Homo sapiens: one gene and its partners. The protein of the gene in region 2 interacts with the protein of the main gene of each other region in a pairwise test. Each region holds a gene or a part of one and is shown on either strand. Other genes may lie near its edges. The genes, in order: SUMO1, ARK2N, RNF4 and MORC3.

Region 1 (8,203 bases), on a different chromosome or scaffold from region 2:
AATCCTGGACTTGGCCTTACATGGTGGCTCACGCCTGTAATCCCAGCACTTTGGTAGGCCAAGGTGGGCAGATCATTTGAGGCCAGGAGTTCAAGACCAACCTGGGCCAATGTGATGAAACCCTGTCTCTACTAAAAATACACACACAAAAAATTGCTGGGCATGGTGGTGCATGCCTGTAATCCCAGCTATTCAGGTGGTTGAGGGATGAGAAAATCGCTTGAACCTGAGGTTGCAGTGAGCCGAGATTGTGCCACTGCACTCCAGCCTGAGTGACAGAGCGAGACTCTGTCATAGAAAAGAGAAAAAAAAAAAAGCAGGCCGGGCGTAGTGGCTCAAGCCTGTAATCCCAGCACTTTGGGAGGCTGAGGTGGGTGGATCACCTGAGGTCAGGAGTTCGAGACCAGCCTGGCCAACATAGGGAAACCCCATCTTTACTGAAAATACAAAAATTAGCCGGGCGTGGTGGCACACTCCTGTAATCCCAGCTACTTGGGAGGCTGAGGCAGGAGAATCGCTTGAACCCAGGAGGCAGAGGTTGCAGTGAACCAAGATTGTGCCATTGCATTCCAGCCTGGGCAACAAGAGCGAAAATCTGTCTCAAAAAAAAAAAAAAAGAAAAGAAAAAAAAATACTGAACTTAAGTTCATGTGTGAGGTAGATATCCTTGAGGTGATTTCAAGAGAGGCTGAGAGAGGATATGTATATATATTCCAGGTAAATGAAACTAGGGCCGCAAAGGGCTGAAGTTGAAGTAATGCTAATGGACATATTCAGGGAACAGCAAATAGTCCAATTGAACAGAATCTTTGGGTATGTTGAGTGAATGATGAGAGAAAAATGAGAATTGAGCTTGATGGTGGAAGCAGAGAATGTCATGCTATAGAGTTAGGTTATAGGCCCTAAAGTCCTGGAAGGTATTTATGCTTTTTGATCTGAGTAGTTACAGGATTGGAGAAGCTGGACTTTAGGAGAATTCTGAAGCACTGAGGATGATGGAGGGGAGGAGGGGAAGAATTCTTTTGTGCTGAGTAGCCGCTATAGCTACCCTATCTAGGAGACACAGGAGCAAAGCCACTCATGTTGTGCTGATATATTGCTGCTAGGGGAGGGGGCTGTCCTTTGTGGTAACTTAAACAAAGCTTCTTAAGGCCTCCTCTCCTTCCAGTTACAGAGGACTCAGGGCTTGGTTGCTGTTTATTGCCCTTCACTGCATGGAATAAGCTCTTTGCCTTCTAGATACTTAGAGGAAGAAGCAGCTGTTTACTATGAATATAAATTCATAGAAATGTGGAGAGACTATATTTGAAGACAGTCTTCTAGTTTTCAGGTGAAATACTGTCTCACTAAAGAAGGTTAATTTTGCCTGCTGCTGTAATAGTCAGTAGTCAGCAAATGTTAAAAGCACTGCAGAATGAAAAACAGGCAAGGATTCATACTAATGAAATCAGTTCTGTTATCTAAGCATTTCCCTAGACTCTAGCCTGTATTTTAAAGTTAAAAGCTGCTTCTAGTTTAATATGTTCTTTTAATTGTTGAATGTTAAAGAATTTTGTATTTTAAGTTACTGGCATGAGATACACAGGTAATGGTTATGGTTATTCTTATCAAATACGGATTAACTGCTTGAAATTATTACGGATAATAAGGTATATATCTAAATAAGTGGGTAATTTGGTGGCCAAACTAAGGTGTAGCACATAGAGAAAAAAAGCTACTTTTTTACCACATTATTCATGAAATTTTCCAAGGTACCCCCTTTACTAAAAATGATTTGCTTATTCTTGAGATACTTCATGGTGAAGTTGTTTTAACTAATTTATTCTGTTAACCTCATTTTCATTTCAGTATCTCTTTATTGGAAATTGTTTTGTAACTGTTTTTGTGATCTTTTTTTTTTTTTTTTTGAAGAGATGAGGTCTTGCTATGTTGTCCAGGCTGGCCTCCAACTCCTGGGCTCTCAAGCAGTCCTAGTGCCACAGCCTCTCAAGTATCTTGTCCTCCTATTTTTGTCTCCTCTTTTAAACTTAAGCATTATGCTTCGGATAGTCTAAAATAATTGATTATATAAAACTGATTCGTTTTGACTCCAGAGTACATTAGGCTAATACTTTCTTATTTGATTTTCCTTTCTAAATAGCCTTGCTTGGCTGGGCACTGTGGCTCACGCCTGTAATCCCAGCACTTTGGGAGGCCGAGGTGGGCAGATCACCTGAGGTCGGGAGTTTGAGACCAGCCTGACCAACATGGAGAAACCCTGTCTCTACTAAAAATACAAAATTAGCCGGGTATGGTGGTGCATGCCTGTAGTCCCAGCTACTCGGGAGTCTGAGGCAGGAGAATTGCTTGAACCTGGGAGGCAGAGGTTGCGGTGAGCTGAGATCGAGCCATTGCACTCCAGCCTGGGCAACAAGAGCGAAACTGTCTCAAAAAAATAATAAATAATAGCCTTGCTTATGCTAATATGATTAATTTACATTTCTTAGTACAGTTTTGTAGTTAAAGTAAACTCCTCATGATAGGCTGTGAGAAGATAATCTTGGATTCAGAAGTTTGTCTAAAAATTCATGGAGGATGAACTTCCTTTGTGCTGGTAAGAGCTGGCTGTAGGGCAGTTGTTTCCAAGTTGTTCCTCTGGCCAGTAGTATCGGTACCACCTGGTAATTTGTTAGAAAGAGATTCTTATCCCTACTACAAATGTGCTGAATAAGAAACTGGGTCTTGGGCCCAGCAGTTTGTTTAACACGTCCTTCAGCTGATTTTGATGCGTGGTAAAGTTTTAGACCATTACTATGGGGTATTATAATAAAAGAGACCCCTTTCTTGATTTCTAGTGAATGGCGTTTGGGACAGTAATTGACTTAGGATTTTTTTTTCTTAATTGACTGGCATGGAAAAGAAATGCTGTTTGTATTCTCAGGTGCAGATTTTGCATCCTGAATGAAAGTAATGGATACTCATAAGTGAGTAATTAAAATAGCATGTAGGAACTTTTATCTTGAAATTTAATTTTCTTTCAGGAGGCAAAACCTTCAACTGAGGACTTGGGGGATAAGAAGGAAGGTGAATATATTAAACTCAAAGTCATTGGACAGGTGAGTTTCATTGTTTTTCTCTTTTGAGTCCCCTTCAATGTGAATACTTTTTCACAGGAAAAAAAATTATTTAAGGCAAATTATTTTAAAATGACTATGTATGCATTTTAATTTACTGTGTATGCATCTGTTAGAGGTAGAAGAGGCCGATACTGTTTTTTAAATTACTCTGCCAGGCAGTTTTAGATCATCTTAATTTTTCCAAATAGGAATGTTTTCTTGGTTAGTGTGCTTCAGGGGCAAATACAGTGAATACTATTAAGTGTTAAGGCTAGGGCCAACCTTAAGTAAAAGGTTTATCAGCCCTTTTCCTGACCCTTTTCTGGCCCCCTATTTCCCTAGACTCTAGTCTGTATCTTTTTTTTTTTTGAGATGGAGTCTTGTTCTGTCACCCAGGCTGGAGTGCAGTGGTGCGATCTCGGCTCACTGCAAGCTCCGCCTGCCGGGTTCACGCCATTCTCCTGCCTCAGCCTCCCAAGTAGCTGGGACTACAGGCGCCCGCCACCATGCCCGGCTAATTTTTTTTGTATTTTTAGTAGAGACGGGGTTTCACTGTGTTAGCCAGGGTGGTCTTGATCTCCTGGCCTCGTGATCCGCCAGCCTCGGCCTCCCAAAGTGCTGGGATTACAGGCGTGAGCCACCGCGCCTGGCTCTAGTCTGTATCTTATTGATTCTGAAATGTTAATTAAGGTTAGCTAACAACCGTTGGAGGAATGAATCTACATAGTTACGTGGGTTTTCTAAAGGACAAAAGACAGAGAATTGGTGGAAGGGTGGACTCGCCCAGGATGGAGTGCAGTGGTATTTCTATTGAAGTGTGACAGTACCATTTCCCTATATTCTCCCAAACATGGGATATTAACAGTCTTTAAATTTTGTTCAAATATGCTAGGTAAAACATTTTTGTTTATTTTTCATTTACCTGATTATTAATAAGGTATAATTTTTTTGGTCTGTTACATTTATATTCTTCTGTTAATTGTGTTCATACCCTTTTCCCATTTTTCTGTGATTATCTTATTTTGAAGACTTTTATTTTTTATTTTCAAAATTTTTTAAATTTAAATTTTATTTTGAAATGGAGTTGTGCTCTTGTTGGCAGGCTGGAGTGCAATGGCGTGATCTTGGCTCACTGCACCCTTCACTCCTGGGTTCAGGTGATTCTCCTGCCTCAGCCTCCCGAGTAGCTGGGACTACAGGTGCCTGCCACGAAGCCTGACTAATTTTTTTAAAAAATATTTTTAGTAGAGACGGGGTTTCCCCATGTTGGCCAGGCTGGTCTCGAACTCCTGACCTCAGGTGATCCCCACCCGTCTCGGCCTCCCAGAGTTCTGGGATTACAGGTGTGAGCCACCATGCCGGCTTTATTTTGAAAACTTTTAAAAGATAAAATTCACATACTATAAAATTCACTATTTTAAAGTATATAATTCAGGGGCTTTAGTATTATTCACAAGTGTGTGCAGCCATCACCACTACTAATTCCAGAACATTTGCATTACCCCAAAAAGACACCCTGTACCCATTAGCAGTCATTCCCCATCCTATTTCCTCCAGCCAGTGACAACCATGATTCTACTTTCTGTCTCTATAGGTTTGCCTTTTGTGGACATTACATATAAATGGAATCATAAGATATATGGCTTTTTTTTTTTTTTTTTTTTTTTGAGGCAAGGGTCTCGCTGTGTCACCCAGGCTGGAGTGCAGTGGCCTGATCTCAACTCACTGCGACCTCAACCTCCTGGGTTCAAGCGACCCTCCTGCCATAGCCTCCTGAGTAGCTGGGATTTCAGGTGTGCACCACCATGCCCAGCTAATTTTTGTATTTTTAGTAGAGATGGGGTTTCGCCATGTTGGCCAGGCTGGTCTCAAACTCCTGACCTCAGATGATCCGCCTACCTCGGCCTCCCACAGTGTTGGGATTACAGGCATGAGCCACCATGCCTAGCTTTGATATGTGACTTTTTATTCTGGTTTGTTTCTTCTTTTCTGCCTTGCTTCCCTGTTCCTCTTCCCCTCCCTCCCCTCCCCCCCTCCCCATCCCCGTCTCCCTCTCCAGGGTTCTCGCTATGTTGCTCAGGCTGGTCTTGAACTCTTGGGCTTAAGTGATTCTCCCTCTTTGGCCTAAAGTTCTGGGATTATAGGTGTGAGCCACTATGCCTGGCCTGGCTTCTTTGTTTTAGCATGTTTTCAAGGTTCATTCATGCTGTAGCATGTATCAGTACTATATTCCTTTTAATGGCTGAATTCTGTTCCATTATATGGGTAGAATATATTTTGTTTTCCATTTATCAGTTGATATTTAGTTTGTCCCCATATTTTGGCTACTATTAATAATGTTGCTGTGAACATTCATGTGTGTTTTTGTATGGACATATGTTTTCAGCTCCCTTGGATATATACCTAGGAGTGGAATTGCTGGGTCTAGTATGCAACTATATGTTTTACTTTTTGAGGAACTGCCAAACTGTTTTCAGCAGTGGCCCTACCATCTTACATTCCTAGCAGCAACATATGAGGGTTTCAGTTTTTCCATATTCTGGTCAACACTTGTAATTATCCGTATTTTTGGTTATAATCCTAGTGGGTGTGAAGTGGTATCTCACTGTGGTTTCAACTTGCTCTTTCCTGATGGCTAATGATGCCAAGCATTTTTTTATGTACTTATTGGCCATTAGTACATCTTCTTTGGAAAAATGAAGTTCTTTAGATCTTTTGCCCATTTTTAAATTGGGTTAGTTGTCTTTTTATTGTTGAGTGGTAATATGTCTTTTATTCTGGGTATTAGACCTTTATCATATATATGATTTGCATGGATTTTCTCCTATCTTTGAGTTGTCTTTTCACTTTCTTGGTTTTATTCTTTGCAGCGTAAAGTTTTTAATTTTGGTAAATTAAGTTCATCTGTTTTTTCTTTTGTTGCTTGTAATTTATCTAAGAAACCATTACCTAATCCAGGGTCACAAAGGTTTACGCTTGTGGTTTAAGAGTTTTAAGGCTGGGCACAATGGCTCACACCTGTAATCTCAGCATTTTGGGAGGCCAAGGTGGGCAGATTGCTTGAGCTCAGGAGCTGGAGACCAGCCTGGGCAACATGGCGAAACCCCATCTCTACAAAAAATATAAAAAATTAGTAGGGCGTGGTGGCACATGCCTGTAGTCCCAGCTACTCAGGAGGCTGAGCAGGGAGAATCACTTGAGCCTGGGAGGTCAAGGCTGCAGTAAGCTGTGATCACGTGACTGTACTCCAGTCTGGGTGACAGAGTGAGACCCTGTCTCAAAAAAAAAAAAAAAAAAGTTTTATGGTTTTATTTATAGTTTTAGCTCTTACATTTAAATCTTTCATCATTTTGAATAATTTTTTATGGGTGTTTGTCCCAGACCATTAGTTGAAAAGACTGTCCTTTTCTCACTGAATTGTTCTGGTATCCTTGTCAAAAAATTGACTATAGATATAAGGGTTTTTTCTTGGCTCTCAATTTTATGCCATTGATCTATCTATATGTCCATATGCCATGGAATGTCTTTTTAAGAATTATTAATTTGTGGGATTTTTAAAAATATTGTCTTCATTTTCCTTGTCTGTTACATGTTATGAATATTTCCTCCAGTATGTCTTAACTTTTGTTTATGGCATCTTTTACTATACAGACGTTTTATGTTTTTATTAAGTCAAATTTATCCACCTCTTTTTTTTATGGTTTCTAGGTTAAAATCATGCTTTGCAATAGGGCATCCCAAGGCCAAAATTAGGGGAAAAAAATTCTCCCTTGAGGGGAAAATATTGAGAATTTTTTTTTTTTTTTTTTTGATGTGGAGCCTTGTCCTGTCATGCAGGCTGGAGTGCAGTGGTACTTCCGGCTCACTGCAACATCCGCCTCCCAGGTTCAAGCACTTCTCCTGCCTCAGCCTCCCGAGTAGTTGGGATTACATGCAACTGTCACCACACCCGGCTAATTTTTTATATTTTTAGTAGAGATAGGGTTTCATCATGTTGGCCAGGCTGGTCTTGAACTCCTGACCTCGTGATCTGCCCGGCTTGACCTCCCAAAGTGTTGGGATTACAGGAGTGAGCCACTGCACCTGGCCAAAAAAATTTTAATGTTAGCTCTTTAATTCATCTGCAAGTGATTTTTTTTTTTTTTTTTTGAGATGGCGTCTCACTCTGTTGCCCAGGCTGGAGTACAGTGGCGAGATCTAGGTTCACTGCAGCCTCCGCGTCCTGGGTTCAAGCGATTCTCCTGCCTCACCCTCCCGAGTAGCTGGGATTACAGGCATGCGCCACCACGCCTGGCTAATTTTTTTGTATTTTTAGTAGAAATGGCGTTCACCATGTTGGTCAGGCTGGTCTCGAACTCCTGAACTCAAATGATCCTCCTGCTTTGGCCTCCCAAAGTGTTGGGATTATAGGCATGAGCCACCATGCCCAGCCTGGAATTGATTTTAATGTATAGCATGAGGTTTGCTGTAGAATTTTATCTGTTTATGAAATGATCTATGTGAAGATAATTTTATTTCTTCATAGTTACAGTCACAAGAAAAATACTGTAAATGTGCAGCTTCTGCAAATACACATTTGTGAATGTGATATGTAGTCATGAAGTTTGGCTTTGAAAGTTTACATTATGCAAGTAACAGTATTTTTTCTGAGGATTGGCTGGCTGATAGTTTGTTTCACAATCTGAGCAGAATAAAATAATTTTTGGTCTCACAAATCAGTTTGACTAACTCAGGTTCTTACTCATTTTACTCATGTGAGAGAAACCAGATTCCATGTGGTGATTTTTTTTTTTTTTTTTTTTTTGAGATGGAGTACTGTTCTGTTTCCCAGGCTGGAGTGCAGTGGCGTGTTCTTGGCTCACTGCAACCTACACCTCCTGGGTTCAAGCAATTCTTCTGCCTCAGCCTCCTGAGTAGCTGGGACTACAGGTGTGTGCCACCATGCCTGGCTAATTTTTGTATTTTTAGTAGAGACGGGGTTTCACTATACTGGCCAGGCTGGTCTTGAACTCCTGACCTTGTGATCCGCCTGCCTTGGTCTCCCAAATTGCTGGGATTACAGGCATGAGCCACTGCGCTCAGCCCCATGTGGTGATTTTTTATGGCAG
Region 2 (8,203 bases):
TTCCATGTCAGCCTCCCAAGTAGCTAAGACAGGCGCCTGCCACCACGCCTGACTAATTTTTTATTTTTAGTAGAGATGTGGTTTCACCATGTTGGCCAGGTTGGTCTCGAATTCCTGACCTCAAGTGATCACCTGCCTCGGCCTCCCAAAGTGCTGGGATTACAGGTGTGAGCCACCGTGCCCGGCCTTGAGAGCCCATTTCTATAAAAAATTTAAAAACTTAGCTGGGTGGGGTGGTATGCATCTTTAGTCCCTGCTGCTTGTGGGGCTGAGGTGGAAGGATCGCTCAGGAGGTTGAGGCTACAGTGAGCTGTGACTGTGCCGCTGCACTCCAGCCTGGGCAACAAAGTGAGACCTTGTTTCAAAAAATAATAATTCATATGGAGAGTCTTTATTCTCACAACAACAATTTATTGAGTGTTTACTGTGTGCCAGCAGTGCTCTAGTTGCAGGAACTATAGTGGTGAATAAGACCAACAAGGCCACCTGGTGCTTAAGGAGCTTAGACATTTAAACCTGAGGTTCGAGTTGGATTTCCAGGTGAGCATGCCAGGCTAGGGCAGCCTAACCAAAGTCATGATTATCAGTGCACTTGAATGGTTAAGTGGGGCCAGTGCCTTGAGTTTTCAAAAGGAATGGATAGGGCAGATGGAGATAGGGCCAAGTTGCAAAGGTACCTTATTAGTCCGCTAATGGGTTGGGAATTTTCTTCTTTTTGGAGGAAAGAATTCCAGGTAGAATGTGAAGAATGAGATAGGCATTCCTTTTATTTTTATTTATTTATTTTTTTTGAGACAGAGTCTCACTGCGATGCCCAGGCTGGAGTGCAATGGCACAATCTCCGCTCACTGCAATCTCCACCTTCTGGGTTCAAGTGATTCTCCTGCCTCAGCCTCCCGAGTAGTTGGGATTGCAGGCATGTGCCGTCATGCCAGGCTAATTTTTGTATTTGGTAGAGACAGGGTTTCACCATGTTGGCCAGGCTGGTCTCGAACTCCTGACCTCGGGTGATGCACCACCTCGGCCTCCCAAAGTGTTGGGATTATAGGCGGGAGCCACCATGCCTGGCCCTGACATAACTTTTTAAAGATTTTTCTGGGGCTACGTGCAGTGGCTCATGCCTGTAATCCCAGCACGTTGGGAGGCTGAGGCCGGTGGATTGCTTGAGCCCAGGAGACCAGCCTGGGCAACATGGCAGAACCGTCTCTACAGAAAAATTAAAAGATTATCTGGGTGTGGTGGCACACGCCTGTAGTCCCAGCTACTCAGGAGGCTGAAATGGGAGGAGCAGTTGAGCCCAGGGGTTTGTGGCTGCAGTGAGTGGTGATCATGCCACTGCCTGAGACTCTTTCTCAAAAAAAAAAAACAACAAAAATATTTTTCTTTATTATCCTTAAGTTGAGTGAATACAAATTTTTTTTGAGATGGAGTTTTGCCCTTTCACCCAGGCTGAACTGCAGTGTCAGGATATCTGCTCACAGCAACCTCTGCCTCCTGGGTTCAAGTGATTCTCCTGCCTCAGCCTCCCGAGTAGCTGGGATTACAGGCGCGTGCCACCACACCCAGCTAATTTTTTATATTTTTGGTAGAGACGAAGTTTCACCCTGTTGGCCAGGCTGGTCTTGAACTCCTGACCTCAAGTGATCGCCCACCTTGGCCTCCCAAAGTGCTAGGATTACAGAGGTGAGCCACTGAGCCCAGCCCAGTGAATATAAATTTTATTGGTTTTATTTATTTTAGTTTGGTTTATTTATTTTGATTTCTTGGTCATCAGATTAAATAAATCTGATAGTTATTTTTCTTTAGTTGTCAATTTCCAGTCTTGGTTTTGAGTTTGACTGTTGTCATGATACTCTTCTGAATCCTTTTAGCCTTTACCTGTACCTCTTTTCCTTACTTTTTCAGAACTCTTATGATTCCACTTAAAGAAGCAGTGTTTTTTACTTCTGTGTGGGCAGCTTCTCTCAGCAGAAGTGGGATTGATGTTCAGTCAGTCAGTTTTCACACTCAGCCTACAGGGCCTTGTAAAAGTAAGGAGCAGGAGCAGGGTGAAACTAAAAAGTAATCTTGCTTTTTTAAAGTTATCTTTTTTTTTTTTTTTTTGAGACGGAGTTTCGCTCTTGTTGCCCAGGCTGGAGTGCAATGGCGCCATCTCCGCTCACCGCAACCTCCGCCTCCTGGGTTCAAGCGATTCTCCTGCCTCAGCCTCCCGAGTAGCTGGGATTACAGTCATGTGCTGCCACGCCTGCCTAATTTTGTATTTCTAGTAGAGAAGGGGTTTCTCCATGTTAGTCAGGCTGGTCTCAAACTCCCGACCTCAGGTAATCTGCCCGCCTTGGCCTCCCAAAGTGCTGGGATTACAGGTGTGAGCCACTGCGCCCGGCCTAAAGTTCTCTTCTATATTCCTGAACTGCTAGGAGAGGAAACTATGTGATCTATGTGTTATACAGATTTATCGGAACATATTTGTAGCAGCTGATAATAGTAAATGTGATTTTAAAATACTTTAAAGTAGCCAATATAACTGAGATTTGATAAGTTGTTTGATTAGTTGTTAGGAATTTTGGCTTTAATTTACAGTGTTTTAAGTTTTGTTTCTGTTCTCTTTCATGTCTGTTCAAAATAAGGGACCTCATTCCTCTTTGCTCAGACTCTGCCACTTAATAGGTAGATGGTGTAAATTCCTAAATTATTAACTTGACTTTAAATAATTTTAAAACCTACCTAAATGAGTATTTTCTAGTTAAGTGACAATTAATCTAAAGTGGAAATCTATCAGCAGGGACTTAATGCATATGTGGTATTTATACCTGGTTAAATTAAAAACCCATTTACTGAGCATTTACATGCCAGGTGGTAATGGGCACATAAAATAAGCAGTTTGGGGCAGGGCACGGTGGCTCACGCCTGTAATCCCAGCACTTTGGGAGGCCGAGGCGGGCGGATCACCTGAAGTTCGGAGTTTGAGACCAGCCTGACCAACTTGGAGAAACACTGTCTCTACTAAAAATACAAAATTAGTTGGGCATGGTGGCGCATGCCTGTAATCCCAGCTACCCAGGAGGCTGAGGCAGGAGAATCTCTTGAACCTGGGAGGCAGCTGTGGTGAGCCAAGATTGTGCCATTGCACTCCAGCCTGGGCAACAAGAGGGAAACTCTGTCTCAAAAAAAAAAACAACAATAAAAACAAAACAAGCAAGCAGTCTCTGCCCACAGAACTCAACCTAGTGAACCAGATGATTTCTGAGTTTCCTTCCTGCTCTAAAATGTGGAGAAGAGAAAGTAGATTATAAGGGAAAAAAGTACTGCATAACAAAACAACTGTAGTATGGAACTAGTGTTTTCCCTTATAAATTCATTTTAAATAAGGTATTAGAAAATAGCATTTTTCTTGGTATCTCTAAGCTTTAAAAGGCTGGAAACTTAAATGTCGTTTTTTGGGCTGGGCATGGTAACTCACGCCTGTAATCCCAGCACTTTGGGAAGCCGAGGCAGGTGGATCACAAGATCAGGAGTTCGAAACCAGCCTAGCCAACATGATGAAACCGTGTCTCTACTAAAAATACAAAAATCAGATGGGTGTGGTGGTGCACGCCTGTAATCCCAGCTACTTGGGAGGCTGAGGCAGGAGAATTGCTTGAATCTGGGAGGTGAAAGTTGCAGTGAGCAGGGATCATGCCATTGCACTCCAGCTCTGGGCAACAGAGCAAGACTCCCTCTCGGGAGGTGGGGGGGGAAATGTCGTTTTTTTGTAATGCCAGTTCATTTACAAAATACATTTGCTTGTAATTCAAGTTCATGTATTAAGTTCTGATTGTTGTTCAGAGAGAAACAACATTAAATCTGTTAAAACTTAGAGCAGCCATTCCTAAGAATGTATATAACCTAGAATTGTGCCAGGCATGGTGGCTTATGCCTGTAATCCCAGCACTTTGGGAGGCTGAGGCGGCGGATCATGAGGTCAGGAGATCGAGACCATCCTGGCTAACGTGGTGAAACCCCGTCTCTACTAAAAATACAAAAAATTAGCCAGACGTGGTGGCGGGCACCTGTAGTCCCAGCTACTCGGGAGGTTTGAGGCAGGAGAATGGCATGAACCCAGGAGGAGGAGCTTGCAGTGAGCCAAGATCGCGCCACTGCACTCCAGCCTGGGCGACAGAGCGAGACTCCGTCTCAAAAAAAAACAAAAAACTAGAATTGTGCTTGGGTAGTCTAGAAATTAAGTTTATTTTGATTGATTGATTGATTGATTGAGATGGGGTCTTACTATGTTGGCCAGGCTGGTCTCCAACTCCTGGGCCCAAGTGATCCTCCCATTTCAGCCTCTCATAGTGCTGGGATTACAGATGTGAGCCACTGTGCCTGGCTGAAATTAAGTTTTTATTAGCATAATTAGCATTAGAGAAACAAGATACTGACCAAAGTGACCAGTAGAAGTTATTTTTTTACTGAGTTGACTAGTTTAAAAAAATGACCTTTACAATAATGTCTGGAGTCTGCATTTTGTTAGGTGCCTTATAATTAGAGAAAGGTATTGTCGGGGATAGGGAAGTTGGGTGTGGACTAAAATTTAAGGAAAACAGGATTGTTTTTCTTTCTGTATTAAGAACAAAAACTTCATGTGGTTAAAATTTTAAGCAGTATCCTGTCTGCCTTAGTTTTAACCTAGCATAGAATCATAGCTTGTTCTTAAATCAACAGTTTAGTGTCAAGGGTTTCTTACTATTTTTCTCTGCTGAAATCAACTAAGCACTTTGCAGTGAGCCTGAAGGTGTGTATAGTGGAGAGAATTTTGGCAGCTTTTATCTTGGGACCTCAGTTCCTGGCATGTGGTTATCCATCTTTATGTGAATTGTCTTCTGAAGGAGATAGAAAATGACCAGGGCAGAAATCTTGGAGAAAATTTAGAACCTTTGTTTTAGGGCCAGGCATGGTAGCTCACACCTGTAATCTCAGCACCTTGGGAGGCAGAGTTGGGAGGGTAGCTTGAGCCCAGGAGTTTTAGACCAGCCGGGGCAACAAAGTGAAACCCTGTCTCTATTAAAAAATTATTTTTAAAAATTAAAAGAACCTCTGTTTTAAATTATTCTTGATTTACACTGATGATGCTTTTGAGTACTTTAGAGAGTCATTAGCCACAGTGCTTTTTTTTTTTTTTTTTTTTTGCATTTGATAACTTCTTTGGCTTCTTACTTGATGCTAGTTTATTCACAGCCCTGGTGCAGGTCCAGGTACATGCCAGAAGTAGTAATATCTGCAATATGAAGTGATTTGAGCAGCCATTATCACCTTTGACCTATTTATAGAGTTTATATCAGTGGAGAAAAAGTTGGCTGGCAAGCAAGCAAAGCTGATCTCTGGTGGTTGCAATCTCACAATTTATATTTAAGTTCCGGGTAGGCCAAATTCAGTGCATTATGGACAGATCCATTCAGCTGTATTAATATTAGAGTTCCCTTTCTGTACTCTAACTTTTTAGCACTCCAGTTTCCCAGTCAGCTTCACTGTTGAAGGAAAGAAAACCGAAAAACTTACCACACTAAAAAAAAAAAGGAAGAGTTCCTTAATGTAATATGATAGTCAGTGTTCAGATTTCCCTCTTATCTCATAAATGTGTCAGATCAAGAGCCAAATAAGGTCTCTGCATTGTTTTGTAATCTGTAGGTTCCCCCTCCATTTCTTTTCCCTAGCAGATTATTAGTTACAAAAGAAGTTTTCCCAGTGTGGATTTAGCAGTTACATTCCTTTGGATTTCTGTGGTGGTGGTGGTAAACGTTTTTCTCTGACCCCTGGGTTTCTAGTTAATTGGTATTAGATTTAGAAGCTTGATCAGATTGTTTCTATAATATATATTCTTTCTCTTGCTTCTTTTGCAGGGGATGAGGGGAATACTTTATAGATGGTACTTGGATCAGTAGGTGCATAATATTTGGTTCCCTGTGATGTTAGTAGCTGTTGGTGATCGTTGCCCAGTTGTGTTAATTTGTTACTCATAATTCCTTACTCTGAATGGGGCATCCTCTCTCATCAGTCCTAGTTTGAGTCTTTTATGCTTGTTTATAGCTTCTTCAAACTTTTCTTTCTTTTGAGGATTAAGGGAAGGGATGAGTTGCTGTGGAGAAAAGGGCTCTTTCTACTATATTGTATTTCTGTAAGTGTTTTTTATTTTAGTCCTAATCTTTGGTTCTTGCATTGTCTGCATTGTCTATGCTGCAGCTTCTTGGTGGGAAAACTGACTCAAAATCCCAGCAAATAATTGAAAGAAGTCCTTCAAAACCAAATTTTTAAAAAAATTTTTTTCTGAGTTAGAGTCTTGCTCTGTCGCCCAGGCTGGAGTGCAGTGGCGCGATCTCAGCTCACTGCAACCTCCGTCTCCCGGGTTCAAGCGATTCTCCTGCCTCAGCCTCCTGAGTAGCTAGGATTACAGGTGTGTGCCACCATGCCTGGCTAATTTTTGTATTTTATTTTTGAGACGGAGCCTCACAGTGTCACCCGGGCTGGTGTGCAGTGGCATGATCTCAGCTACTTGCAACCTCTGCCTCCTGGGTTCAAGCGATTTTCCTGCCTCAGCCTCCTGAGTAGCTAGGATTACAGGTGCCTACCACCACGCTTGGCTAATTTTTGGTATTTTTAGTAGAGACGGGGTTTCACTAGGTTGGCCAGGCTGGTCTCGAACTCCTGACCTCGTGATCTGCCTGCCTTGGCCTCCCAAAGTGCTGGGATTACAGGTGTAAGCCACTGCGCCCAGCAGTTTTTGTATTTTTAATAGAGACGGGGTTTCAGCATGTTGGCTAGGCTGGTCTCGAATTCCTGACCTTGTGATCTGCCTGCCTCGGCCTCCCAAAGTGCTGGGATGACAGGCGTGAGCTACTGCGCCCGGCCTCGAAAACCAAAATTTATGGCCAGGTGTTGTGGCTCACACTTGTCATCTCAGCACTTTGGGAGGCCAAGGTGGGCAGATGGCTTAAATACAGGAGTTTGAGACCAGACTGGGTAACATAGTGAAACTCCGTCTCTCCTAAAAATACAAAAATTAGCCTGGCTTGGTGGCATGCGGCTGTAGTCCCAGCTACTCAGGAAGCTGAGGTGGGAGAATCACCTGAGCCTAGGAAGGTAAGGCTGCAATGAGCTGTGATTGTGCCACTACACTCCAGCCTGGGTGATAGAAGTGAGACCCTGTCTCTAACAACAACAACAACAACAACAAAGATTTAGGAAGATGAGTATTATGAATGCAATGGAGTCTCTTCATAGAATTGAATGTGTAAGGAGAGGGGCCTTCATTTGAATTTTAGTAAGATACTGCTTTCTACCTCATTTTGTGGTTATGTAGCCAAAGATACTTAGTTTCATAGTGCCTGATTCTTGCATATTTGCGTATACACACACAATCACTTTAAATGCAGTATTCTAAATGTAAGGAAACAGCTTTACTAGGCTATTAGCAGTTGAGTCAGTTTTTGTCTTAGGTTTTATGTAGAAAGAAAAGGGAAGTTACTCTGTGAGAAATCATGTTGATTCTATGTAATGGAATGTATTTTCATATACAAATGAATAGTACTTTTAAGCAAACAAGTTGTTTCATTAGTGGTCTTGGTTTAAAAGATTCAGTTGATCAATTCAACAAATATCAGATATTGATTATGTGTTAGGAACTGTGAGTGAACTGATACTGAACATGATCCCTGTTTTCATGGGAGATGCAACATAGAGGGCTGAGGGAGTAAGTAAAAACATTTAGGTGCATAATTTGTTTCTTTTCAGTTGTCTTTCTCATAGTGTGCTATTTATTCTCCTCCCTCATGTATAAAGTTAACTCTTAACTTCTTGGGCTTAAATTTCCTCTGATAGCTCTGTGTGTGCACATGTGCCACAGTCAGAAAAATCAGGTAATAATTGTTAGGTGTTAATTTTCTTGGATGATTACTAGTATTGTGATTGTCTTCCACCATTGTCATAGCTCTCTACTGTGCTAGCCAACTTGTCTAACTGAAATAACTTTTAAGTCTTTTTGTGACAATTGCTAAAGCCAGCAGGAAGTAGGTCCACAATAATGTTTGAAAGCCCTGCTTCATTCTAGTTTTATCTTCATGCATTGCAATTTGTCTCTTGTTTTCCAGTCTGCATATTCCCTATCCTCAATTCTTGTTTAAAAAACCAGGTAAGGCCGGGCGTGGTGGCTCATGCCTGTAATCCCAGTACT
Region 3 (8,203 bases), on a different chromosome or scaffold from region 2:
CCGTACCCAGCTACTTTTGTATTTTTAGTAGAGACGGGTTTCACCATCTTGGCCAGGCTGGTCTTGAACTCCTGACCTCGTGATCCACCCACCTCGGCCTCCCCAAGTGCTGGGATTACAGGCGTGAGCCACAGAGCCCAGCTTAACAACACATTTCTCAGAACATATCCCTGTAAGGTGGGGCGCAGTGGCTCACGCTTGTAATCCCAGCACTTTGGCAGGCTGAGGTGGGTGGATCACTTGCAGTCAGGAGTTCGAGACCAGCCTGGCCAACATGGTGAAACTCTGTCTCTACTAGAAACAGAAAAAATTAGCTGGGCATGGTGGTGCACACCTGTAATCCTAGCTATACTCTGGAGGCTGAGGCAGGAGAATCGCTTGTATGTGGGAGGTGAAGGCTGCAGTGAGCTGAGATCATGCCACTGCATTCCAGCCTGGGTGACAGAGTGAAAATCTGTCTCTGGAAAAAAAAAAAAAAAAAAAAAAAAAAAAAAAAAAAAAGAACATATCCCTGTAGTTAAACAACATATAACTATGTTACCCAATACATTAACTGATTAGAGAGGCAAACAAATCTTGTCTCAATAGAAGCAGAAAAAGGACTGGTAAGATTGAACATTCACTTGTGACCAAAAACAAAAATAGAGAAACCCTGTCTCTACTAAAAATACAAAAACTAGCCAGGCGTGCTGGTGCATGCCTAGCTACTCAGGAGGCTGAGGCAGGAGAATCGCTTGAACCCCGAGGTGGAGGTTGCAGTAAGCCGAGATTGTGCCACTGCACTCCAGCCTTGGCAACAGAGCAAGAATCTGTCTCGTTAAAAAAAAACAAAAACAAAAAACAGAAATTGAAGACAAATGCCACTAGGTGTCATGGCTCATGCCTGTAATCCCAGCACTTTTGAGGAGGCCGAGGCAGGCGGATCACCTGAGGTCAGGAGTTTGAGGGCAGCCTGGCCAACATGGTAAAATCCCGTTTCTACTAAAAATACAAAAATTAGCCGGGCATGGTGGTGCATGCCTGTAATCCCAGCTACTCGGGAGGCTGAGGCTGGAGAATTGCTTGAACCCAGGAGGCGGAGACTGCAGTGAGCAGAGATTGCACCACTGCACTCCAGCCTGGGCGATGAGTGAAACTCCGTCTCAAAAAAAAAAAAAAAAAGATAAATGCTTATCTCATGGTAGGAAAATGAACCTCCCTCATCTGACAGTTATCTAACTAGAACCTACAGCAAACATCTTTCTTGATGAAACACTAAAACACAAACACCATTTGTGTGTAATAATAATGTACTGGGCTAGGCTGGGCGCGGTGGCGCACACTTTTAATTCCAGCACCTTTGGGAGGCTGAGGTAGGAGTATCGCCTGAGGCGAGGAGTTAAAGACCAGGATGGGCAACGTGATGAGACCCCCGTCTCTACAAAAATAGAAAAAAAGAAAAAAGAAAAAAAAAATAGAGTTGGGGCTGGGAGTGGTGACTCACGCCTGTAATCCCAACACTTTGGGAGGCCGAGGCGGGCGGATCACTTGAGATCAGGAGTTTGAGACCAGCCTGGCCAACATGGTGAAAGCCCGTATCTACGAAAACTACAAAAATTAGCTGGACATGGTGGCACGTCCCTGTAATCCCAGCTGGTTGGGTGGCTGAGGCAGGAGAATCGCTTGAACCTGGGAGGCGGAGGTTGCAGTGAGCTGAGATCGAGCCACTGCACTCCAGCCTGGGCGACAGAGCCAGACTCCGTCTTAGGAAAAAAAAAAAAATAGCAAGGATTCTGGATACACAATATAGAGAATCAATTGTTTCTATGCTGCCAAAACAAAACAAAACCACCCCCCCACCGAAAAAGTTAATACAGACATCTTTTGAGTTTCTATAGCCAGCCTTGGGGGCTCCCTCCTTTCCAGGACCAGACCCACTCCAGCAGTACCAGTCTTAGGGATACACTGCTCCCTGCCTCCCCTAGGCTTGCTCCTGGGGTAAAGAACTGCCAGGCCCTGGGTAGCCACCAGAAGTGTCTGGTCCAATGCCTTTAGGTATCGGGGAGCCTGCAGACCCTACTGTATGCCAGCAAGAAGCTCTTTCTCATAACTTTCACAGGCCTGGCCTGGGGTCTCTGGAATTCTTTCCTCTTTCCCTAGAGAGCTTTCTGGACCTTGAAGATGGCAACTTAGCAGCCCTTATTCAGAGAGAGCTTTCTGGACAGCTTCAACTTCTTCCTGCTGGATCTCCTGGTTTCCCGTACCCCACCCTCATCAGTTTCAATTTTCCAGTGGCCTGGGGGACTGTCTCCTCTGTAAACATGTTCCATGATGTCTGTCTCACTGCCCACAGAGCCAAAAGTGCAGTGCCAGGAGCATGGTAAGCAAACTGCACTGGATGGTAGGCCTTTGGGACCCAGGCAGCCAGCATGTTAGCCTTTCTAGTCCCTGGGGACAGCTGGATAGGTACAGAGGGCAGAGGCAAAGGGAGAGCTTGGCCACACTGCCAAGCCCATTCCCTCCTTGTGGCTTTGCTGGCACTGCTCGCCTGTGGCAGTGGCTGGCATATCCATGCACTCCCAGTGCTGACTCCCACTCAGAGGGCAAATTTTGTATCTAGGTGGTCAGGGGCAAAGGGGGGTGCTGCAGTGCAAGGTTTCCAGGGCAATCTCAGTCCATCCCACTCAGAGCAGCACCCCCAGCACCTCTGAGAGACTGGCCGAGCTGAGCAGACAGCTCCTTGGTCAACCTTGCCTCTCAGAGTAGACTCTGCTCTCTTAGGGACTCCAGGGCTTGGGCTTGTGGCTGTGCTCCAAGAACAGCCTCTCACATGCTTGCTGGATTTAGGACATGGAAACTTCCTGAACACACACCAATGCAAAATACACTCAACGTGAGGCAGATAAGAACCCCGCACCTTGGCAAAAAGGGGGGAAATTGATTCCAAAGAGCAAATGAATGTGTAAAAGATATTTGGTTCAAATTAATGGTTTTATTTCCATCTGTAACACTAGCAGAGGAGTCCAAAGCAGACTGATATCCATGGATATAGTTTAAATGTAACAAAGAAAGAGTTGAACTATGTACATTGAAAAAAGGAAAGACATTTCTTCATACCAACCTTTCCCTAGTTCGCAGTTTCTGAATAGTAGAAACAAAACACATTTTTAAATCTTTCTATCAATTTAATTTAGGACGAAGTAACACAACTTTTATAATTAACCACTGAAGTTGTCTTTAAGGACAAAACTTAAATTTTAAAATGGGTGTTACCATATTTTATGAGTGGACTGACTCCAAGGTTGCCTTGCTCCAAGTCTGGGCATCGTGACATTGCCGTGATGCCCAGAAGAAAGTTAATGGCAATGATGTCCAGTCAGAGGGCAGACATGCTACACATCACAATGATGAGAGCTGCGGATTCTGCCCTCTTCAACTCCAAGTAGAAAATTATTATTTTCATTCAAACTAACTGGAAGTGAGCCAAACAGTTAAAAAGTCAGAATGAAGAATAAAACAATTTTCTTTTCACATAGAGGAGGGACACTCCTTCAGCCCCGTCTAAAGTGAATTCTGTGCTGAGTCCCTGCTCCTTCAGAAGGGTAAACTGAAGGTCAGTTATTGCTAACAAAGCCAGAAGTGGCCCCTTTCCCGCCCTGAAGATGTTTCACACGAAAAGGCCGTTTGTTTGGCGTGAGGCCCTCTGAGGAAGGACGACAGTGGAAGAGGAGGCATGCCGGCACTGTAAGGCCTCTCTCGTTAGCCACCCCCCAGGCCCTGTGCTGTCAGGGGCAGCTTGGGCCACTTTGCTGCCCCTGAGAGAACCTGAGGCTCCCGCGTACCTGTGGAGCGAAGGAGAGGTTGTCATCTGGGCCCCTGTTTCACCAGTCAAAACCTATGGAGCAGTCAGAAGCCCGAAGCATCCAAGCCCAGTGGCCAGGAAGCTTCTGAAATAAACGGCACTGGGTTGGGAAGGATGAGAAAGCCAAGACAGGTGGGCCAGGTTCTCCGAACATGGGGCAACAGTGACCTGGGCAAAAGCCTGGAACTGAGCGGCTGATAAGGCCACAATTACTGCCACCACCTCTCAGTATCTACACGGGGGCAGACGTTAGGCAGTGGGAACTGAGGACTGGAGGGCGTGTGGCAAACACGGGATGGATTTTATCAGAAAAGAGAGGACACCCAAACACGTGCCTGCCCTATTTATCTTGCATGTCCTGTGCCAGGTGAAGGACGCTGGAGCATGGGTAAGGTTCCTGAGAACAACTGGTGGGCAGAAACGGGCTGGGATGGGCACTGCTCCACAGGCAACATTAAGCCTCTGAGGGGGACACTAATAGTGCTACATCTTGTGGGCTGCTGAAAAGTAGGTAACGAATGGCCTTTATTGCACTTTTTCGTTCTTAGGAAACAGGGGAGTGCCCTGCAGAGTTTCTCTTGATTTGCAGAAATCACTGCAGATCAATGATAAGGTGCAGGCAGAATCACGGGTGACCTCTGACTCTCAAGGGAAGAAGTCCAGTGATTGGTCTTTCCAGGGCCTCAAGGGGCCACTCTTCAACCTGGGATCCTCGAGCTGGGTGAACCGGGTCTGGCTTGGTCAATGTGTGGCAGGCAGATTGGTCGACCGGCAGACACTTGGGACAAAAGGTGGTGTGCCCGGGAAAGCTGGGGCAAACTTTCCAAACAGGGAAAATTTCTTGGCAAATGTGCAGATTCTGCAACCAGACTGGAACCACGATTCCCAATGCGCCTGACTCCCTTTCTCCCACTCTAGAACTGGACCACCCCAGAGGAACAGAGATGGCCTGGGAGGGCCCTGGGTCCAGCGCCATAGCATCAAACTGGAGATAACAAAAGGAAGGGGTTGGAAACAAAAGAGCAGTTTACATATCAGATGTTGGTTTCGAAACAGTCTTTTTGATCTCAGGAAAATGGAGGCAGATACCACTGGAGAACCTGGCTGTCTGTCTGTCCATCCGTCTCTCCTGGGGGGCTCTGAATACTTCATATATAAATGGGGTGGTACCGTTTGTGGTTGATCTTTTTCCTACAAGTTGGGCAAGTATTAGCATTCTTCAGGGAATCACGGAGGCACTGGCTACAGAAGACATGGCCGCATTCTGTGGAAACGATGAGACGTCCATTCTGCACGATCTAGAAGGCATTAAAAAGAAGAGCCTCCGAGTTTGCCCTTGTCCCAGAGCAGCCATGGGGCCAGAGAATCCCACCCACCTATGCCTAAGATGACTAATTAAAGGAAAGCAAGGGCCAGGCTACAACAGGGAGGGGTCTGGAGAGCTAACTGTGTCTGCTGTGGTCTCTCTCAGCTGGAGAGCAGGAGGCAGGGGCCATGGCATCTCAACAGTGTGACAGCCCAAGAGGGTTATGAGGGACCCCAGTAAACACTAGCAGCTTTCAGTTAGAGCCAGGATGGGGCACAAAAAAGGAGGACGCATTTGCACCCGGAAGCTCAGGGCATACAGGAGTATAGGGGCTGAAGGTGAAAGTTGTAGGGTCCAAGGAGAAACTGGCACATTCTCCCCTCACAGGCAGATCTGCAATAAGTGACGGCCCAGGCATGACTGTGAGTAGGGGTGTCCAATCCCACCGAGGGGGAAGATCCTGTCTCATCCAATTCTTTCAGTGAAGTTTAGAAACCAGAAGCCTGGAAGATACAGCTTGGTTTACTTACCTCTGAGTATCCGTCCATGCAGATGGGACAACTGACAGTACCTGAGGGCCTAAGAGCACAGTGCTTCACGTTAGTTTCTCAGTCAACGCAAACATTTTATTATACCCTGTCACGTGAGTGGCCCCTATCCCCTACAAGAGTCCCGTCCCTGGCCTCCTGACTCTGCCTTAGCGCGGGCATCCGAGAGACTTTCAGGAAAGCCAACTGCCCCAAGGGCATGTGGGAGGGTGAACATGAGAAGGTGCACACAACCTGAGTCACCCTGCCCTCCCCCAGGCCCCTACCAGCCCCAGGATCCCTGTCTGGGGCCACTGGGACTGTCTGCACACACTGTGTCAGCGCTTGGCATCCTCTGGTTACAGTGGGAATAGCTGGACTCAGTTCTGGACCCAGTTCCAACTGTATCCAGATGCTGGGTAGAGGCTTGGGCAAGCCCTTCCAGGGCCAAGGGCTCACAGATTTGCTGAAAAGTATTCCCATGCCCTGGCCCCACATCCTAGCATGGCGGCAGCAGAGCTGGGGGCACGTTGGTACCTGAGGCCTGTAGCGCCCTCATCCCTGGCGTTTCTGGGAGTATGGGTAGTCACATATACGTCTCTGTCCCTGGACAACTCCTCATCGTCACTGCTCACCACACAGCTGTCAGCATGGTCCTGGGGCAGCCTCCTAGCATTCCTCCTTGGTCTTCTTCTTTCTAAGGTAAGAGGTCACATTTTCAGGTTGGAGGCTCTCTACTCTTACCATCCTCACCACTCCCATCCTGACGCCTCTTAAGACCCTCTTCCTTCCCTGCCTGGGACCCCCAGAGACAAACTGCTGCCATGCTCAGCTATAACCCAGAAGGTTCTGCCCAGCTCTGGAGGCCACTATCTTATCTTCCCAGGAGAAACCCCCCAACCCCTGCTGTGAGCTACCAGCCTTCTCCAAAATCTGGTAGGCCACAAGAAAGGACTATAGCTCAGTGCTCAATGATAGTGGTGAAGTTTCTTCAGCAGGCACAAGGGGGACTGGCTGTGTGGGTCTGACCACAGCATCTGCGAAGGCATCTTCCTGCTTGGAGCGCTCCAAGCCCTTGGGGATGGTCTGGCAAGACCTGCAGCACCGCGGCTCTCACCTATGCCAGTTTCCTCTCCAAACCCAGTGAAAAAGGAAACGAAACCACTCACCGTCAACAATCTTGTAAACAGAAGGAGAAAAACAAAAGAGAAAGAAGCAATCAGTTTGATATAAGTGATAAACGAAGCCATTTCTTTTTTCTGACGTGTGACACCCTCTGTGGAACCCTCTGGTGAGCAGCAGAGGCCCCACCCTCCTCCCACCCACAGAGGATCTGTGCACCTCTCCCAGTCAGTCAAGCCCACTTCCCAAGTCACTCCACCTCCCAGCTGATGTGCTGTGTCTCTCCCTGCTGGGTGTTTAGTGGAGTCTCCTGGAGCGTGAACACAGCCACAGCCACACCATGTGCTGACTGCAAGACCTGGGGACCTTCCTTACTATCTGGGGGCTGCCACAGCCACACCATGTGCTGACTGCAAGACCTGGGGACCTTCCTTACTATCTGGGGGCTGCCACAGCCACACCATGTGCTGACTGCAAGACCTGGGGACCTTCCTTACTATCTGGGGGCTGCCACAGCCACACCATGTGCTGACTGCAAGACCTGGGGACCTTCCTTACTATCTGGGGGCTGCCACAGCCACACCATGTGCTGACTGCAAGACCTGGGGACCTTCCTTACTATCTGGGGGCTGCCACAGCCACACCATGTGCTGACTGCAAGACCTGGGGACCTTCCTTACTATCTGGGGGCTGCCACAGCCACACCATGTGCTGACTGCAAGACCTGGGGACCTTCCTTACTATCTGGGGGCTGCCACAGCCACACCATGTGCTGACTGCAAGACCTGGGGACCTTACTTACTATCTGGGGGCTGCAGCTTTCTCTTCTGAAGCAGAGTCACCAGAGCCCACATCTGACTGTGCTGTTGTGAGGGTTACGTGAGGCAGTGAACATTTAGACAGCACTAGGGGCATGATGCTCTCTCAAGCTGACGCGACCAATGTAGGCCACTGCCAAGGTGGAGCCTTCATGTGGAGGAGGATTTGCATTGCTCAGTAGGTTGTTACAAGTAACTAACAGAGAAAAGCAGGCTATGCATGACCAATGCGTGTGACACACACCAAGGATTGAACACAATCCAATTCTCTGTCCTGGGGGCCTAAGAACCTGACAAGCCTCTCACCTGCCAGCTCAGAACTTACATCTAGACAATTTCTGCTCCAACAGTTTCAAACGTGGTTCCTCCCACCTTCTGGCCAAGTGCTCTTACCCATCTAGGGGGGCCAGTGGAACGCCCTTTCCCTCTTGCTGAGCACGTAGGAGGGGCTGTTTCAGGAAAGTTCTCACCACCAAAGCCCTACTGCTCACCTCACCCTGCCTGTCCCCTGGGCAGGACATCCTGCCCTACAGTGACAAGAAGCTCTAATCCTCTACTCTGACTCCCGTGCAGCCAGGATCCTAGACGT
Region 4 (7,171 bases), on a different chromosome or scaffold from region 2:
AAGAAGACAAGAACACAGTGGAAAAGAATAGGCAAAGAACATGTATAAAACACAGAAAATTAAAATGGCCAATGTAAGGACTGAGACAAATGTCAGCTGTCATATTTTCACATATCAAATTAGCAAAAGTAAGTTTGAGAGACTTTGAGGAAAACACTCATATTTATTACTCATCCTAAGTATAAATTCCTGCAACCTTTTTTTGGATGGCAATATTTATTTAAATGTACATGGCATACATTCTTTGACCTATCAATATTCACTGTTAACAATTTACACTCTGGATTTAATCGGAAAATCATGTGTGGTATGTATTAATCTTCACAGTATACTTTGAGACGGAGTCTCGCTCTGTCACCAGTCTGGAGTGCAGTGGTGTGATCTCGGCTCACTGCAACCTCTGCCTCCTGGGGTTAAGTGATTCTCCTGCCTCAGCCTCCCAAGTAGCTGGGATTACAGGAGCCCACCACCACGCCCAGCTAATTTTTGTATTTTTAGTAGAGATGGGGTTTTACCATGTTGGCCAGGATGGTCTCGATCTCCTGACCTCATGATCCACCCACCTTGGCCTCCCAAAGTGCTGGGATTACAGGCACGAGCCACTGCGCCCAGCCAGTATATTCTTTCTAACGAAAAGTAAGTAAGTAAGTAACCATTAGGAGCATATTCCTATGATGAAATGTTACTTAAGCTTTTTGAAAGAATGATATGGAAATGTTTAGTTATCAATTATATGGTATAATCCCACTGTGTAAATATCGACACAAATATACGCAATTTAATGTAAATAAAATACATACACATGAATGTGTGCATGTATGCACACAAAAGCCAATAGTGGTTACCTTTAGAGGCCGTGGAGAAAGTCTTTTCACTGTTCATTTACATCTCTACCGGGGCACCGCTCTGCTTCCCCTCCCTCCCCCTGCTTGCCCCAGTGAGAAAGTGGATATGCTGATCCCGTTTGTTTCGTGAACCACTCAAGTTCAACATTTATAAATACTCAACAGAAGACACAACTCAACAGTGCTTGGCTCTGATGGTGCACTGGAATTAACCCGGGAGGCCTTGAAAAATACTGTTATCTGGGTCTAACCCCAAGGACGCTGACTTAATTAACGTGAGGTGCAGCCTGACTTTGGGAGTTTAAAAAACTCCCCAAGTAATTCTACTACGCAGCCAGAGGTGAGAACTTAAATGATTCCTCAATGATGTATGACCCAAGTTTAAGACGTCTCATGTGACAGCAAGAATCAAGCGTCTGAGATCACAGGCAGCGTCACCAACTGGACCTGCCACATGAAGAATTTGAGGCCCAAAGGAAGCACACAGGGACGTGCCATGCCCTCCTGCTCTGTGTGCTCACTCAGCTTTCACTGATTTTGCCACCCTAGGTCCTGTTTGAAGACTGTGGACTGTTTTGGTTTACTTCCTCATACCTTTCGTGTTTTAAAGTAATAAACATTAGTTGAAGCAATACTGTCCCCCACATGCAACAAAAGAAAGAGAAAGGTACATACATCATGAAAGCCCACGTTGTTCTGTTAAACAACAGTTGTTCTGTCTGCAACTGTGAGCCACATTTTCGAAGTCTCATATCTTGGCAATACTTCAATATCTTCATAAAGAGCAAAAAGTATCTAAGTGCTTCCAAAGAATCAATTTAGCAAGCAAGTTTCTCTTACTAATCCCATGATTAATTTTCCCATCAAGCCAGACAGCTACAGGAAATATTTTTGCAAGAATACATAGAGAAGCTGGCCAAAAGGAAGGGAAAAATAGCAAATTCCAAAAAGAACCACTGCATGAGTTAGATATTCACAAAACTTACATATGATTTACATAGCTGCTATTATTTAGGCAAGGTTTCTCTAGAGTAAATGATTTATACAAAGAAAAGTCCTTTTTTTTTGAGACGGAGTTTCGCTCTTGTTGCCCAGGCTGGAGTGCAATGGTGTGATCTCGGCTCGCTGCAACCTCCACCTCCCAGGTTCAAGTGATTCTCCTGCCTCAGCCTCCTGAGTAGCTGGGATTACAGGCATGCATCACCACACCCGGCTAATTTTGTATTTTTAGCAGAGACGGCATTTCTCCATGTTAGTCAGGCTGGTCTTGAACTCCCGACCTCAGGTGATCCGCCCGCCTCGGCCTCCCAAAGTGCTGGGATTACAGGCGTGAGCCACTGCGCCAGGCTGAGAAAAAGCTTTTGAAAACAGAATATACATGCTCTGAGGAAAGAGGAGCTCAGCCTCAGTCTTAATGGAAACAGTCTTCAAAAAATAAACTGCAATTAAAGTAGTTAAAATGAGCTCAAGTTGAGGGTCTAATGAATACATTTTTAGTTTTAAAATAATTTGAGGTTAATATTAAGTCTTTAAAAGTAGCATTTGAACAGTTAGCCATCATATATTTTTATTTTATTATAAGATATTTTAAAATTTGGGAAATTACAATTGTGACAGAAAACCAGCTTCATACCAAAAATACACTTTCAATTACTTTATCAGGCAAATAAAAACAATCTTCATTTATTTGCTCTTTCCAGAATTACTATACAGTAAAAATTCAATACTGTATATGACCGACACGTATTAAGCATACATACAAAATGAACGGATTGAATGTTCAAAAACAAAGGTAAAAATAAATAGCAATGATAAAACTTTGGAAAAAATAATGCACATTTTAGTTGTGGAAAATATGGTTCTTATATATACATAGTTTATACTTAATAGAAAGCCATCTCTTTAAAATTGCACAAAACATGGGACCAATAAAGCATAGTATTTTATGGCATGTAATACTATAATCCTAAGGAAATTTGTTCCTTGACTCTAGGATATAAAACACTTAGGTTTGTAATATAATAAAAGGTATGTAGTATTGTTTGAGAAAGACTGTCTTCCTCAACTCACATTAACCTGTAGTAATCCTACAAAAGGCTGTACAGGAAATTTCACAAAAAGAAATATTAAAAAATTATCATGCCCACTTCATGCTGACTAAACAGCCAAAAATGGGCTTCAAAGTAAACTTGGTGGCCATTTAATATTTCAATACCTTTTTTCTGTTAAAGACTGTTTCTTCATTCTATAAAAACACTTTGTGTTTAACCGTGATTGGCAATCTCAGCACAACAAAATCCTGGCAAAATGGAGTTGGTTTTTGCTTACCTTATTTTCATGAATAAAATATTTCAGGACAGGAATTTATACAAAAGAAACATTAATGCTCAATTCACTTATAACCAGAGTTGTATCAGGAGTGTTACTACATTATTTAAAAATCCTATTTAAACTCCTTTATAAGAAAATCAAAGGTAACATTTCCATTTGTATTATGGCATAGCCCTCGACTTAGAGAAAAATACACTTTGGGGAACCAGAAAAAATTGCACAAAGCTTAGGGGCAACCTGAAAAGCTCTTGGTGAAAAACACTTGAGTACTCTAGGGCAATAAAAAAATATGTGCAGGCTTAATTACAAATATTTACATTCAAAACAGAGTCATGAGTTAGCTTCAGCTGCTCAATGCCAACAATTCACAGGTATTTCAAAACATAAGATAATGTGTCCACAATATTTGTGACCACATTTGAATGCATAGAATACAGTAAAGATTATGGTTTTCAGTCTGTTGCCTATCATATCTATAAAACAAAATTAATTATATTTTGAAAGCTGTACAACCAAAAGAATTGAGCAAATATTTTATCTTACATAACATATACTTTAAGTACTACTGATTTCACTCATTTGTTCAACAACTTGTCCTAAAATCTCATCAACTACATCAACATCGTAATTCACTTGCTGAAGATCAAGATCAGGCACAATCATAGCCAGCAGTTGTCCTACGTTAACTCGAAGAGATCGGAGTTTGAGGCTGCAAATACAAATATGTAACTTATTAGATGAGCATTACAAGTTAAGATTCATGTAGACCTTAAAAAGTAAAATATCAAAATCAAATCTCCGTAGAATAATATACAATTAAACAAAAGGAAAAGCAAAACCTCCCCTAGAGAACTCAATTTACTTTAATAATTCACTTTTATGAGTCAGGTGCACTTGCCCATGCCTGTATTCCCAGCATTTGTGAAGCCGAGGAGGGAGATCGCTGGAGCCCAGGAGTTCGAGACCAGCCTGGCCAACATGGTGAAACCCTGACTCTACTAAAAACACAAAATATTAGCCGGGCTTGGTGACGACACCTGTAGTCTCAGCTTCTCAAGAGGGTGAGGTGGGGGATCACCTGAGCCCAGGAGGTCAAGGCTGCAGTGAGCTGCGATGGCACCACTGCTCTCCAGGGTTCACGCAATTCTCCCACCTCAGCCTCCTGAGTAGCTGGAAGCACAGGCCCACACCACCATGCCCGGTTAATTTTTATTATTATTATTTGTAGCAATGGGGTTTCACTATATTGCCCAGGCTGGTCTCAAACTCCTGGGCTCAATCAAGCATTCTGCCCACCTCAGAGTGCTGGGATTACAGGCATGAACCACCATGCTTAGCCAGAATTATCTAAAACATGTTCTATAAGATATCCATAGTTGTGTAAGAGGTAATAAAAGGTTCTGTGGTCAAATAAGCTTGCAAAACATTGTGTTAAACAATGTTAAAGCAGCTTTTTTTTTACGCCGGGCACAGAGGTTCACGCCTGTAATCCCAGCACTTTGGGAGGCTGAGGCGGGCAGATCGCCTGAGGTCAGGAGTTCAAGACCAGCCTGATCAACATGGTGAAACCCCGTCTCTCCCTAAAAATACAAAATGTAGCTGGGCGTGGTGGCGCACACCTATAGTCCCAGCTACTGGTGAGGCTGAGGCAGGAGAATTGCTTGAACCTGGGAGGCAGAGGTTGCAGTGAGCCGAGATTATGCAACTGTACTCCAGCCTGGGCATCAGATCAAGACTCTGTCTCCAAAAAAATAATAATAATAATAATTGTAGGACTGCTCTGATCCTATTACATGCTTAAGTTACCGTGCATTTACAGAGAACAATGGTTTGCTGAAAACACTGGGAAACCATAGATTAAGATAATTATGCCTTCCAAGTTTATGAATATCAACATTCTAGACTTTTTAAAAAATGCCCAAAAGTATTTAAGCAATAAACACCTAAACTGTAAGGCAGCTTTTGCTTCAAATATTATGGCAAACACATAAAATGAGTGTTACAGTTGTTCTTGTTCCCTACCCCACTACAATATAATAAGTCCATATTTAATTTAGATACTGATTTTTCTCGAGTGGAAATCTATGAAGGGATCAAGATGTTCTTCCTTAGTCTGATAATGCGGAGAATGTGATTTTGAGCATGTTTTTTTGTGAGCTTTTATGGTAAGAGTCCACTAGACCTTTGATAATACTTTAATCGTTCCCATACCAGCTTTTTTTTTTTTTGAGACGGAGTTTTGCTCTTGTTGCCAAGGCCACAGCGTGATGGCGCGATCTTGGCTCACTGCAACCTCCTTCTCCCAGGTTCAAGCGATTCTCCTGCCTCAGCCTCCCAAGTAGCTGGGGTTACAGGTGTGCACCACCATGCCAAGCTAATTTTGTATTTTTAGTAGAGACGGGGTTTCACCATGTTGGTCAGGCTGGTCTCGAACTCCTGACCTCAAGTGATCCACCCATCTTGGCCTCCCAAAGTGCTGGGATTACAAGCATGAGGCACCACGCTTGGTTTTAAGACAGAGTCTTGCTCTGTCACCCAGGCTGGAGTGCAGTGGCGCAATCTCGGCTCACTGCAACCTCCACCTCCTAGGTTCAAGCGATTCTCCTGCCTGAGCCTCCCGAGTAGCTGGGACTACAGGCGCCTGCCACCACGCCCGGCTAATTTTTGTACTTTTAGTAGAGACAGGGTTTCACCATGTTGGCCAGGCTGGTCTTGAACTCCTGACCTCAGGTGATCCGCCCAACTCAGCCTCCCAAAGTGCTAGAATTATAGGTGTGAGCCACCACGCCTGGCCTATCTACTTGTTTTAATAGGACTTCTTCCTAATATCATCTGTACTATGGCAATTTTTAATAATTTTGCAATTTCCTAAAAGATTAGAGTGAGCATACAGTGAAATAAGGACAGCAAGCCATAAAGACATGGTACCAAGTACGACAATAAAAGAAAAACAGGTTGAAGGAGTGAGTTTCAGTAAAAGTCTCCTGTCTTCTACTCATGGCCAAATTCCCCCTATTCTTCAATATCTTGTCCATTTTTATTTTCCTTCAAAAAGCATTCTAAAACCACTCTGACCAATCAAATGCTTTATCCCTTCTAAATTCCTATTCCACTTAAATAGAACCTAAAGGGTCAGAAACTGGAAAGGAAGGATAATGAAGTGTCACTTCTTTTTTATCTATCATAACACCAGGGTCACAGCAGACCATCAATAACTTCTTTTGACAGAACAGTATCTATTTGATGGGTGCTAGCAGATAAAAATAAATAGTATCCTAACCATAATTGCAGCCCCACAAAAACGCCTCATTTAATATTACCTTTCTCCATCCATATGATTTACAGACTCCTCAATGTTACTTGATGTTGAAACATCTGTTGCCGTCTGTTGATTTGTAGATTTTAACTGTTCTACTTCAGTTTTGAGTTCTTCACACTGTGAACGGATTTGTGACTTTTCCATTTCCAGCAATTCAACCTAACAAAAATATAAATGAGCTTTATAACTGTAAAACTTAAAAATACTAATGGCAAAGTGAAATTTCAAGCTAATATAGAGAACCTGCTTGATAACATTATCAACTATCAAAAAACAAATACACAAAGAAAAACCAGTAGTTTTCTATAAACAAGGCTTCATTCGTTTACAGCTTCACTTCTACATCTTTTTACACTGAGAGAATACAACATATTACCACTTGATTTAAAAAAAAAAGTGGTACCTAGAAAATGAAAAACCAGCCGGGCATGGTGGCTCACGCCTATAATCCCAGCACTTTGGGAGGCTGAGGTGGGCAGATCACCTGAGATCAGGAGTTTAAGACCAGCCTGACCAAAATGGAGAAACCCCATCTCTACAAAAAATACAAAATTAGCTGGGTGTGATGGCAGCCGCCTGTAATCTCAGCTACTCGGGAGGCTGAGGCAGGAGAACTGCTTGAACCCAGGAGGTGGAGGTTGCGGTGAGCTGAGATCACGCCATTGCACTCCAGCCT

The links.
Region 1: the proteins of ARK2N (region 2) and SUMO1 interact in binary tests that used the Homo sapiens proteins (3 or more experiments, as listed by UniProt).
Region 3: the proteins of ARK2N (region 2) and RNF4 interact in binary tests that used the Homo sapiens proteins (3 or more experiments, as listed by UniProt).
Region 4: the proteins of ARK2N (region 2) and MORC3 interact in a two-hybrid assay, tested with the Homo sapiens proteins (one large-scale study listed by BioGRID and IntAct).

Annotation. Positions count from the first base shown.
Region 1 is NC_000002.12:202,214,924-202,223,126, reverse strand, and holds part of SUMO1 (small ubiquitin-related modifier 1 isoform a precursor), read left to right. Parts: intron 1-3,020; coding exon 3,021-3,095; intron 3,096-8,203. UniProt on the Homo sapiens protein: Ubiquitin-like protein that can be covalently attached to proteins as a monomer or a lysine-linked polymer.
Region 2 is NC_000018.10:46,177,540-46,185,742, forward strand, and holds part of ARK2N (protein ARK2N), read left to right. Parts: intron 1-8,203. UniProt on the Homo sapiens protein: AMPK substrate important for exercise capacity and skeletal muscle function.
Region 3 is NC_000004.12:2,510,606-2,518,808, reverse strand, and holds the end of RNF4 (E3 ubiquitin-protein ligase RNF4), read right to left. Parts: intron 6,854-8,203; coding exon 6,844-6,853; intron 6,372-6,843; coding exon 6,212-6,371; intron 5,727-6,211; coding exon 5,678-5,726; intron 5,140-5,677; coding exon 4,990-5,139; 3' UTR 2,952-4,989; downstream 1-2,951. UniProt on the Homo sapiens protein: E3 ubiquitin-protein ligase which binds polysumoylated chains covalently attached to proteins and mediates 'Lys-6'-, 'Lys-11'-, 'Lys-48'- and 'Lys-63'-linked polyubiquitination of those substrates and their subsequent targeting to the proteasome for degradation.
Region 4 is NC_000021.9:36,371,857-36,379,027, reverse strand, and holds the end of MORC3 (MORC family CW-type zinc finger protein 3), read right to left. Parts: intron 6,655-7,171; coding exon 6,497-6,654; intron 3,886-6,496; coding exon 3,732-3,885; 3' UTR 2,396-3,731; downstream 1-2,395.